Homo sapiens: one gene and its partners. The protein of the gene in region 2 interacts with the protein of the main gene of each other region in a pairwise test. Each region holds a gene or a part of one and is shown on either strand. Other genes may lie near its edges.

What was found. Proteins that work in one complex are often made in the same cells at the same time.
Region 1: the proteins of SLC71A2 (region 2) and GIMAP1 interact in binary tests that used the Homo sapiens proteins (3 or more experiments, as listed by UniProt).
Region 3: the proteins of SLC71A2 (region 2) and CYBC1 interact in binary tests that used the Homo sapiens proteins (3 or more experiments, as listed by UniProt).
Region 4: the proteins of SLC71A2 (region 2) and DEFB127 interact in binary tests that used the Homo sapiens proteins (3 or more experiments, as listed by UniProt).

The regions. Positions count from the first base shown.
Region 1 is NC_000007.14:150,719,613-150,722,198, reverse strand, and holds part of GIMAP1 (GTPase IMAP family member 1), read right to left. Parts: intron 2,152-2,586; coding exon 1,274-2,151; 3' UTR 1-1,273. Other genes in the region: GIMAP1-GIMAP5 protein, read right to left, coding at 1,793-2,151. UniProt on the Homo sapiens protein: May regulate lymphocyte survival. Required for normal levels of mature T-lymphocytes and mature B-cells.
Region 2 is NC_000009.12:94,454,569-94,458,055, reverse strand, and holds part of SLC71A2 (hippocampus abundant transcript-like protein 1), read right to left. Parts: intron 1,817-3,487; coding exon 1,719-1,816; intron 1-1,718.
Region 3 is NC_000017.11:82,444,920-82,447,752, forward strand, and holds part of CYBC1 (cytochrome b-245 chaperone 1), read right to left. Parts: intron 2,703-2,833; coding exon 2,661-2,702; intron 1,778-2,660; coding exon 1,704-1,777; intron 1,042-1,703; coding exon 945-1,041; intron 1-944. UniProt on the Homo sapiens protein: Functions as a chaperone necessary for a stable expression of the CYBA and CYBB subunits of the cytochrome b-245 heterodimer. Controls the phagocyte respiratory burst and is essential for innate immunity.
Region 4 is NC_000020.11:156,179-159,663, forward strand, and holds DEFB127 (beta-defensin 127 preproprotein), read left to right. Parts: upstream 1-1,275; 5' UTR 1,276-1,366; coding exon 1,367-1,415; intron 1,416-2,595; coding exon 2,596-2,846; 3' UTR 2,847-2,985; downstream 2,986-3,485. UniProt on the Homo sapiens protein: Has antibacterial activity.

The sequences.
Region 1 (2,586 bases), on a different chromosome or scaffold from region 2:
ACTAGAGGCTGGCTGATTTAAAGACAATGAGTTCCCTTAAAGGGTTCTCATTATGCTCAGAAATAGAAATAAGGAAATCCTATTGTTTGATTCGCACAACCAGTCAGCGGCAAATTTTCTAATCACGTGGCATTCGAGAACCTTCCTGGACAGGCCCATCCCGAAAAAACCGGATGCTTTCGCCTCACAGCATAGGATGCTCAGGTGTCTGCAGTCTCAGCCTATGCACCTGGTGCTCTGCCTCTTCTCCATAACCAGAGAGGAGCTCGAGATACAGACTGTGTGTGTGTGTGTGTGTGTGTGTGTGTGTGATAAAAATATGAATAACCATATAGAAGATATTATATGTTATTTTCCCAATATCCTACTCTTTTTCTTTTTCTTTTCTTTTCTTTTTTTTTTTTTGAGACAGATTCTTGCTTTGTCACCCAGCCTGGAGTGCAGTGGCACGATCTCGGCTCACTGCATCAAGTGATTCTCCCGCCTCAGCCTCCTGAATGGCTGGGATTACAGGCGAGTGCTATCACGCCTGGCTAATTTTTGTATTTTTAGTAGAGATGGGGTTTCGCCATGTTGGTCAGGCTGGTCTCGAACTCCTGACCTCAGGTGATCCACCTGCCTCGACCTCCCAAAGTGTTGGGATTACAGGCGTGAGCCACCTCGCCCGGCCCTTACTTCATTTTGGAATGCCATGAACCATAATATGTTCTAGAAAAGTGGAAACTGTTATTTTCCACTTTGTAACAGTACAGTTACATTCATCTTTTTGGTAGTAAATCATTGTACTATAAACTGATGTCTCAGAAGTAACATTCACGTGTGTAACCCCCACATTTCTTTTATTGATGCTAAAAGTCTACAAGGATCACAAAGGAACCTATCTACCCATGTATAAGAACTAGAAAATTATCAAGGAGGGGCAGTCTAAATTTTTTAAAAAGCTCGAAAATAATGGCACTTGTTTTCCCTGTGCCATGCGTTTGTCCCCACTACAAGCTACTTGACATTAGACTACCAAAACTACCAAAGGAAGTTATTGTTAGACGAATTTATTTTAAAACTCTGCATACACATCATTTAAAATGAGTTAAAAACTTAAAAAGTGAACTCTGAGCTTTGGCAAAGTTGCAAAGGTGATGCAGCAAAGTTTTCTGTGTCATTAAAACTATGCCTGAAACTACAGGATTCCTTCCGTTGGAATGAAGTTTTCCCTTCAGCTCCAAGAATTCAGCCTCCCTTAACCAAGTTGCCTTCAGTTTTAGGACCTGCGCTGTCAGTCAGGCCCGACCTCCGCAACGGCCTCCGACCACCGCCTGTGGAGCAGCACCCAGAACAGGAGCGCGCCCCCCAGCAGCAGGGCCAGGCCCAGCCTCCAGCTCCTGGGGGACTTCAGCCACTTCCACAGCCGGGCCGACAGCCAGGCGCCCCATGGCCTCCTCTGCACCCTGGCTGCCACGCGCTCCGCCACCCGCCGGAGCCGCTCCTCAGGGCCTGCCCAGCGCAGCACCTGCGCCAGCTCATACACCTCGTTGGAGTAATGGGCGCCCTTGTGCTCCAGCACCAAGCCCTCGACCATCCCCAGCAGCTGCTCCACCTGGGCTTCCTGCTCCCGGCCGGTGGCCCGGTTATCAAAGGCACAGACCCGGCCCCCGCACTCGGCCACCAGCTCGCGCAAGGCCCGGTTCTCTGTGTTGCTCACGTAATCGTGCAGGGAGCCCCCGGCCAGGTCCTCCTTCCTGGTGAAGACGATGACCATCCATTTTAGGACGTCCTCCCCGAACATGTCCCTCACCTGCCTCACCGCCTGCTGGTCCTGGGCGGTGAACCGACCCAACTGGGTCACCAGGAGCAGCGCGTGGGGTCCGGGGGCCGAGAGCAGGTAGCAGTGACCTCTCTCCTCACAGCCAGGATCTGTCTTGGACACTTGGGAGCTGAAAATGTCCGGAGTGTCCACGACTTCCACGTGGCACTTGTCCCACCTGCGGCTGCCCGTGGTGCAGGCCCTGGTCACAGACGTGGCCCCCAGCCTGGAGAAGAACCGTCTCTGGCCCAGGATGCTGTTCCCAGTGGCGCTCTTCCCGGCCCCTGTTCTCCCAACAAGGATGAGCCTCCGCGTGGACTCCTGCCGGGACTGAGCGTTCTCTTCTAAACCTGTGAGACCAAGTGTTATAATCTTACTTAAGTTTAACCAACTTCCCCTTGGGAACTGGAATCTTCTTGCCTTTAGCATAAGTGGTTAAGAATAGAGATTTGAACGCCTGGGCGTTCATTTCCACCTTTTCCTTTTGTATTTGGGTTGTCTGCCTGCACCAGTAGATGCTCCAACTACAGTTGATTATCATAGAAATGCTTCTTTATCAGTCCAGCCCAATAGTTCATCTGACATTTCTGGTCATCCACACACATGCAGACATATTTATTTCATATTTGAAAATTTCGATGGACTCTGAAATATTCTCCCAGAGACCATCCCCAGAGACAGGCAGTGGGGGCAATACTGCCTGGTAGTGAAGAGCTGTGTGGAGTCCCAGATACCCTGGTTTGAATCACAGCCCCACCACGTGCTGGTTGTGTAACCTTGGGGAA
Region 2 (3,487 bases):
TTCTGTCAACTGAGATTTCCCTGCTCTGGTCATTTACTGGTGCTTTCACAACAAAAACTTGCCCTTCACCTCTGGCAGCCCTGGTGTCAGGAATACAGACCAGTCCCCAGTAGGCAGACTTCATCTTCACAGGTGTATTCCAGCCTATCTCCCTAGAGACCTACACTGAAAAACCCAGAAGTGCCAAATTCCTAAATATCTCTGCTTTCTAACATAGCAAGTAAAAAGTTAGCTTGAACTGTATGAAATGAATGTTTCTGTAAATCAAAAATGGTAGTATATAATTCAGCCTAATACAATGTGTTCCAAAACTTTTATATGCTGACATTCAGAAACATGTATATTGACATGAATAAGTATAAAAAGTCAAAAGAAAATCCATGCCCCAAATGACAGGACGGTGTCTGTCAGATGCCAAGGCAGTGACAGTCCTCCACGGATGGGTCATCACATCTTCACTTCAGACACAGCACCTCCCTAAGGATGCAAACCAACTGAGTTACTGTAGCCAGGAGTGACATACAGAATGTGTGGTCTTCAAGGGACAATATTTAACAATGAATCTGAGTAAGATACCTAACTTCTGATATAGAAAAAAAAAATGCAATGAATAAACCATCCTTTCCAATATAGTTTTTTACTAAAACTTTTAAAAAAAAGGGCTCTTAGGCATTAAAAAATTTTTCTCCCTCTAAAATTGTCTACTTCTTCCTGAATACAATAAGGTGAGCCATTAGGAGATAGAGAAGGAAAGAGATTAAATCTAGCCATGGGAACTGCTTGAAAGGAAAGCAGTCCAGGCATGGGGGCTCACACCTGTAATCTCAGCACTTTGAGAGGCCGAGGCAGGCAGACTGAACCCAGGAGTTCGAGACCAGGCTGGGCAACATGGCGAAACCCCATCTCCACTAAAAATACAAAAAATTAGCTGGGCATGGTAGTGTGCGTCTCTAGTCCCTGGTACTTGGGAGGGTGACTGGGAGATCACTTGAGCCCAGGAGACGGAGGCTGCAGGGAGCCAAGATTGTACCACTACACTCCAGCCTGGGTGACAGTGAGACCCTGTAAGGGGTAGGAGGTGGGGGGTGGGGGGAGGAAGGGTGGGAAAAGAGGGAAGAAGGGATGGAGGGAGGACAAGACAGGACAGGAAGGGAAGCAGAGGCATGGGAAGGATGGGATATGGATCTAGATGGTAGAATGCTATTTTCCACATAGCAGTCTTAATTTTAATTTCATCTCTCACTCAACATCTATCAACAACCACACAGACTTTTTCTTACTACTCTCAAACTATTTTCTAAATTAAGCTCAAAGACTTTGAGTTATTCCAAATAATTAGTGAATAAAGTAATTAAGTAACTCGTGGTTAACTGGTTTTTCATTATTTAATAGACATCTGTTAAAATGTGATTATAGTCTGCTTAATTGTGACACTAAAGAAGAAAAGATGTATCAAAACTGAAAAGGGAAAATGAATAGTTCTATTTCTAATTGTTAGCAATCTGAACTGCTAAGTCTAGCTTTAAAAAATATAAGTGTAAGATCAAAGCAGAGAGGAAAATAGAATGTTCCTATCTGCCAAAGTAAATAGGTATGATAAAAGGGGCCATATGGCTGTCGGCTCCTGCTGTTGATGGGGAGAACTCAGAGCTGCTCCTGCTTCTAGCAGGGAGGTCTCCCGTTGAAGGAGAAAAACAAGTGGGGGGCAGTGACCTCACCTTGCTGATCTGACTCTGCATTCCGAGAGACGAGGGCACTGATTGCCGGAAACGTGATGCTGGACATGGCAGCCACGGTCCCTGCTGCCCACATCATCCTGCAATGACAGGACAGGCACAGTCAGGCAGCAGGTCAACCTCAAGGAGCTCACTATTCGGAATGCAATCAGTGGCAAAAGTACAAATGCCTTGTTTTCTCCTGTTACATTTTATTTATTTTTTCCTCTTTAAAAATGCATTTTTTTTTTAACCTACAAGGTTACATGTGACACTGGAGGAAACGAATGGCCTAGGATGGGGACAGAAGGGCCAGGAAACCTTTGTGTCTTGATTTTACTTCTTTTACAAACTTTTCTTCTCCCTGGTCTCCCTACTGCTATCTTTAGACATAAGCTCAATGAAGTTCGCAAGGAGATTTCTTTTGTTGCTATAAATACCACATTTTCTCCACTGACCTTTCATTTTTTCTTTGTACCTCTTGAAGGCTCACTTTCACACTGCCCTCGAGCTACAGCTTGCTACCCCTCAACAGAGAGAGCATGGTGTGCCCCCAACTGGAAAAACAGACCTGCCTTCCTCTTTAGACCTTTGTCCTCCTCTCAATAAGAGTCTTAACTATGTATCAGTATGAAGTGTGAGTGAGTAAAGTGAGGCCCCAACTTTGGGATGGTCATTACTGAAAAAGAAAAACCTCACATGATGACAAAGTCTTTTTAACACTACATGAATGTGACTAAATCAGCTACTGAACCAAAGTTCACAGGAGCAAAATCAAAAAGAACAAGGAGAATCAAGCAAGTTAATCTGGTAAAAAGTCACAGACGGCTAGGGACAGTGGCTCATGACTGTAATCCTAGCACTTTGGGAGGCCAAGGCAGGAGGATTGCTTGGGCCCAGGAGTTCAAGACCAGCATGGGCAACATGAGACCTTGTCTTTACAAAAAAAAAAAAAAAAAAAATCAGAATATTAGCCAGGCATGGTGTAAAAAAAAAATCAAAATATTAGCCAGGCGTGGTGGTGCGTGTACATACTCCCAGCTACTCAGGAAGCTGAGATGGGAGGATCGCTTGAGGCTGGCAGCAAGGCTGTAATAGTAAGCCATGATTGTGCCACTGTACTCTGGCCTAGGCAACACAGCCAGACCCTCTCTCTCTCAAAAAAAAAAAAAAAAAAAAAAAAAGGAAAGAGCAAGCGGATCAAATGAAATTCCAAAATTCAGAAGGGGCATATGTACTTACTCCCCAAACTAAACATGATAACTAAGGCAATTCTAGTTTCTCTAAATTATGTTGTCTGTTTGTGTCCAAAGTAAGGACCAGCTCTACCGTCTAAAATGGAGAAGGCATTTCTGCATCTGCCCACCAGGCACATGGAGAAACCTGCCACATTAACAAAACAAAACTCACGATTCCTTCTAATTTTTCTTATTCCACTGAGCTTATTTGGACCTTCCTTCCTGTTTATGGGGGAATCTAATATGGTAGTAATAACTGCGGCAGAATGCACATGGTTTTGGAAGAAATTTTAGTGTTCAAACTCAAATGATTTATCAAGGTTATGTTACTGATAGGTAATGATAAGTCATAGTGAAGCTTGCCATAATCAGTCATTTTTTTTGTATCTTCTTGTTTTGCTTTTGACTATATTCAATGTCTCTAAAAATTAGCATATGTGGCCAGGTGCGGTGGCTCACGCCTGTAATCCCAGCACTTTGGGAGGCCGAGGCAGGCAGATCACAAGGTCAGGAGTTTGAGACCAGCCTGGCCAA
Region 3 (2,833 bases), on a different chromosome or scaffold from region 2:
TGGCTGCTGAGCCAGGGCCACCCTGCAGTTTCCCGTGGCAACTCAGGGCAGCCACCTCTTCGGGTACTGGGGCGGTCCCAATGGCTGTCAGAAAACGGCACAGCTGCCTCCCACAGCCCAGGCCAGCCCTGCAACTGCTCTCCCCAAAGCCACAGGTGACCTGGGGCCAATGCCCTGGCCAGGTCCCTGCAGGGATCCAGGAAGCAGCCTGTCAGAAGTGCAGCATTGCGGCACTAAACCCAAGACTGCCCAGCAACTCTGGTCGCCAGAATCTGTCCCCTCTGGGGCTATGCATGGGCGGCCGGACCCCGGGGCCTCTGTCTGTCTGTGCGGCAGCATCTACAGGAAACTGGTACTGACCACAGCTGGGCCAGTGCCCAGGCTCAAGGGTGGGGAGTTCCTCGGACCATCCAGCCCCTACTGCAGGCCCAGTAGAACCCACAGGAAAGCTGGAGCAGCGCCAAGGCCCGCAAGAAGCCAGGTGGCCCCACTCCAGAACGCCCACGGGCTGCCATGGCTCTCCCTGCCCCGTCCTGTGACCTGCCGCTGGGGCCAGACTGCACCTGCGGACAAGTGGCTGCCAGGCAGACGGGAGAATGCAGCTAAACAGAGGCTGCCCGAGCCCGGGTGGGCCAGACCCCTGCTCCTCAGACCCCTGCTCTGCCAGACCCCTGCTCCTCAGACCCCTGCTCCTCCCACTCTCCCCAGGGGCCAAACCTCTAAAGAACCCAGGAGGCTCTAGGACCCTGCTGAGCAGGTGAGCAGGTGGGGCGTATCCGTGGGATCCTGCTTCCAGCGGGCAGGACACAACCCTGGTCACCAAGCAGGTGAGCTTGGACCAAAGGCACTTCCAGGCCCCCCTCTAGGCCCCGTGAGTCACCCAGACGCCCAAGTGCGCCGCCTCTGTGGCCGTGTCCCATGTCCCCACGCTCCCCACGACTCACCCTGGTCGTGGCCAGCTCTGAAAAGAGTCAGCAGCTTCTTGTAGAGGCTGAACGTCTTCAAAACAACCTTCCCTGTGCTCTTGTCGAAGATGGCTTCCTGGAAACCGACATGCACTGACCACCATGAACCTCCAGGAACGGGGGCCCCGTGGCCGCTGGGGCCTCACCCCCACCCTCACCAGGGTGGACACTCAAGAAGGGGGGCTGGGGACCCTCCCAGTCAGAACCCAAACCCCTGAAGCCACAGGTGCTGCTCTGTCAGAGCCGGATATCGGCAGCCAACCCGACTCCTGTTGGGAAATGGAGAGGTGGGCAGGTGCAGCAGGCGCTTGCTCCACCCTGCAGGCAAAACAAGTGCAGGGAGGCAGTGGAACCAGCAAACGAGGGCATGGAGGTCAGAGGGCAGCACTGGGCCAGGCTGAAAGGACTCATGAGGGGCTCCGAGGTGGGAGGGCCGGCCACGGGGAAAGCTGACTCGCATCCCATTGTGGCAACTCTGGGAAGAAAGCACTTTGGTGAAGATAGTCATGGAGAGCTTCTAAGAGAAAAATGCCTTCGGGGAATTCCTTGGCCAAGAACGGTCCCAGATGAGTGCAGGGGCCATGTCCTGATGAACGGAGACCTCCAAGCAGGGACCAACGCTTCAGGACGGGGAGGCGCTAGGCCACCCAGGGCCCTTCCTCCTCCTTTCATTCCCATTGCAAAAAACCCAGGAGCTGAACAGCCCTGGACTCTGTCCCGCACCCGAGCCGGCCTTACCTCCCAGTCCTCCAAGTTCTGCACAGCCACAAACAGGCAGCCTGTGACGTAGAAGAGCTTCCAGCCCAGGCTATCTGGAGATGGGCATAGGGCGCCAGCCTGTGAGCTCCAGGGACATGCCCACGGGAGGCCCCGCCTAGCACAGCCTCCCCCAGACGCTGGCCAGAGCCCACGCTTGCAAGGACCCCCTGGGCAGCTTCCTGTGCTGCTGACCCTGCCCTGGCCACTCAGGACCCACACGCGGCACACCCCACCCAGCTCTGACCCCCAGAGTCCACGTGAGAGAGGCAGGTGGGGCGCACAGGGCCTCTGCCCGTCTGGGCAGGCCCAGTGATTGTGGCAGGGTGGGAAGTACACCTCATCCCACAGCTGGATCTTAGATCCTCAAGAGCATCTCTCCGGGAATATTTGATGACCCAAAAACACAGAAGACTTAAGAAGTGAAATGTGGCCGGGCGCAGTGGCTCACGCCTGTAATCCCAGCACTTTGGGAGGCCGAGGCGGGCGGATCACGAGGTCAGGAGATCGAGACCATCCCGGCTAAAACGGTGAAACCCCGTCTCTACTAAAAATACAAAAAATTAGCCGGGCGTAGTGGCGGGCGCCTGTAGTCCCAGCTACTTGGGAGGCTGAGGCAGGAGAATGGCGTGAACCCGGGAGGCGGAGCTTGCAGTGAGCCGAGATCCCGCCACTGCACTCCAGCCTGGGTGACAGAGCGAGACTCCGTCTCAAAAAAAAAAAAAAAAGAAGTGAAATGTGGGCTGAGCGCTGGGCAGGATGGGCGTGCGGAAGAACAGCAGCGCATGGAGGGCGCGGTGCCCGCCAGCAATCAAGGGGCAGAGGTGCCGATCCTAAAGGCCGCCCCATGGACAGTCACAAATGACAGTTTTTCCTTCTTTTCTCTGTTTTCCAAACAGCTGAGACAGTCATGGGGGGGTGGGGCGGGGGGTGCTTTACCTCCGCTGTAGTAGGCAGCAGCCAGGCCAATCGACAAGATTCCTATGAAGAGAAAGTGACTGCCTGCCTATTGATCCCGGTAAGACCCCACCTCCCTGGTGCAGCGGGACCAGGAGCCACAGCCCCTGATGAGCAGGCCCTTCCCACTGTAGGAACAGCTGTGGTCAGGGGTT
Region 4 (3,485 bases), on a different chromosome or scaffold from region 2:
GGTTGAAATTTTTTGAAAACTGCAATCAATGATCAAAGAATGATCTAGGTAAACATCGATTCCTTGTGGCAACATTTTAATATTTTCAAAGACAAGGTACAACTGGTAGAAAAAAAATACCCTCATGCATCTTTTTCTTCTAATTGTGGTAAAATATATGACATAACATTGGCCATTTTAGCCATTTTTCCTTTTATTTTTAGTTGACACATAATTGTACTTATTTATAGGATACAAAGTGATATTTCAATACATGCATATAATGTGTAATGATCAAACCAGGGTAATTAGCATATCCGTCACCTCAAACATTTATCATTTGTATTGGGAACATTCAAAATCCTCTCTTCTAGCCTTTTAAAAGTATACAATAAATTGTAGTTAACCATATTCACCTTACAGTGCTACAACACCAGAAGTCATTCCTCCTATCTATAATTTTGCATCCATTAGCCAATCTCTCTCCATCCTCCCCTCTCCCTAATCATTACCAGCCTCTAATATTAATATCTGCAACACTACTCTCTACTTCCATGTGCTCAACTTTTTTAGCTCCCATATATAAATAGGAACATGTGGTAATCTTTCTGTGCCTGACATTTCACATAACATAATGTCCTCCAGGCTATCCATGTTGTTGCAAAGGACAGAATTTCATTATTTTTATGGGTGAATAGTATTCCATTGTGTGTGTGTGTGTATATATATATATATATATTCCATTGTGTGTTATGTATGTATAGTATTCCATTGTGTGCATATATATGTATATATGTGTGTACATATATATATACATAATATATATTCTTCTGCACATGGAAATCCAGTTTCTCCAGCATGATTTATTGAAGAGGGTATCCTTTCCCCAGTGTATGTTCTTGGTGCTTTTATAAAAAATCAGGTGACCTCAGATCAGACCCAACTACATCATACCTTCTTTCGAAATGTGCAAGAAACCTACTAGAAATTCTTATTGTTAGAGTTTCAGATTTATGTCCTGGTTTATACTGCCACATTCATTCTTGGAGGTGAGTACATTTCGATCTTGGTCCGGCTGCGCAGAGAGTCAAAGCAGGAAAATCACAGATTCTTCCCAGCAGTCTACAGCCTACACAGCGGCATTTGGTGCGATGGGATGGAACATGCTGTATCTCTATTCCATGTGGGGGTAAAGTGGGTGGCCTGAAATTTCCTGTGTCTGCCTGCATGATGCAAAGCTCACAGTTCAGAAGCTTAAGGACACACTTCATATCATCCCATCTGTTCTGGTTCAGTGCATAAGAATCTAAGTCTCTGAGGAAGGTAGCATAGTGTGCAGTTCACTGGACCAAAAGCTTTGGCTGCACCTCTTCTGGAAAGCCTGGCCATGGGGCTCTTCATGATCATTGCAATTCTGCTGTTCCAGAAACCCACAGGTAAACCAAACCAGAAGCTCACTCAAATCAACAGTGGGATGGAGCATTTTCAGGAGCCAAAGGGAACTTCATAATCCACACTAAAGGGAAATAGAGCCCCCAAAGATGGCTAAAGTTTATCCAACATCATCAGAAATTTCCTCTTTCTGGAGCCTTATTCCATGTTACTATCCTTAAAGAGGAGTACTCACTGAGCTAAAAAGAGGTCATAATTTCTTCTGGGAAAGATGTGTTGTTATAGAAAGGAATGATGCCAATATCTAGGGATACCTTTATGTCTTTGGATATGGTTTTTACTCTGATGCTCAGCTATATTTCCTTTTACTCAAATATATATATGTGTGTGTGTGTGTGTGTGTGTGTGTGTGTGCATGAATAGAGGAAGAAGCAAATTTTGGAGTTAGGTTTAAGAAACATGCCTTCAATATCTACTAGTTTGTCAACTTTAAGTAGTGAAGACTCTAGGAGCCTCAGTTTCCTCATCTATGGAGATAATGACACCTGGTTAACAGGGGTTTTATTAAATGATATAACCTATGTGAAGCTTGGCACATACTGAGAACTCAAAAATTAGAGTTTCCTTTCCTCTTTCAAAACCAGATTTCTTACATGTGTCCCTTATTATAAGAATAGTAATGGCCTATTCCTGACCCTCTACATTCCTAAGACCCAATAGACTACTACCTTACTGGATAACATGAAAGTCATTCTTGACCCTGATAGTGGGTTTGAACTCAGGAGAACAGTTTGATTCAGACATAAACACATAGTAACAATACATTGTTCTCTGGGCATCAGAGGAGGTGCAGTAGAAGGTAGTGCTCTGGGAGCATTCAGGATGCAGGCAGATTTGCTGAGGTTCCTATGTAGAGCATAGTTCCATAGCCTAGAATCAAGGGTTCAGCTCCTTTATTTTCTCAGATAAGATCTTATGTTCTTGGCAGAGTCTATCAGATGTTAAGGGAGGCCTAAAACCTCACAGGACCTAAATATAAGTGATCCAGTTAAATACAAACACTGAGGTTGACCTTGTCGGAAAATCCTCTTCAGAATATATGAGGGTCTGCCTTGTGGATACCCCATACCCCTAATTCCTACAAGCCTCCTCTGTCTTCCCCAAAACCAACGTGCCTTCAGTCTCAAACACTGATATTGTTCTATTGCTCCTTTCTGTGTATAGTAACCGAACAACTTAAGAAGTGCTGGAATAACTATGTACAAGGACATTGCAGGAAAATCTGCAGAGTAAATGAAGTGCCTGAGGCACTATGTGAAAATGGGAGATACTGTTGCCTCAATATCAAGGAACTGGAAGCATGTAAAAAAATTACAAAGCCACCTCGTCCAAAGCCAGCAACACTTGCACTGACTCTTCAAGACTATGTTACAATAATAGAAAATTTCCCAAGCCTGAAGACACAGTCTACATAAATCAAATACAATTTCGTTTTCACTTGCTTCTCAACCTAGTCTAATAAACTAAGGTGATGAGATATACATCTTCTTCCTTTTGGTTTCTTGATCCTTAAAATGACCTTCGAGCATATTCTAATAAAGTGCATTGCCAGTTTTCTGTCTCATTTTGTTCTTTAACCAGGGGTTGAACACTCATTATATACTAGGTAATGAATTGATAAGAACTCAGAACCTCTCCTTGAAAAGGGGATATGACAAGTACACTAAAAAAAAAAAGTCCTATAGTGTGGAAGTCTGGAATAAGAAACTCAGAAACACTGACATGTAATTTAGGAGAGGGAAAGGTGAAGCAAATATTCAGGGGAAATTCATGAGTAAGTTTAGGAATAAAGCAGTGTCTTGTAGTAAATAAGTAAATAGTAAAGCAGTAAATAAGTAGGATTTCCATGGATGAGGTTTGGTAGGGAAGGCAATTTGAGTGAACAGAATGGGAGGAAATTGGAAAAGACAGAACATTTCAAGACACTATACATGCACTTTGTTTGGATGAAGAACAGAGCACTCAAAGTTGAACTATGGGGGAAGTCTGATTTCCTAAGCTCCTGTGTACCAGCAGTGAACTGGGAAGACGGAGATAAATAAGATTCCACTGTT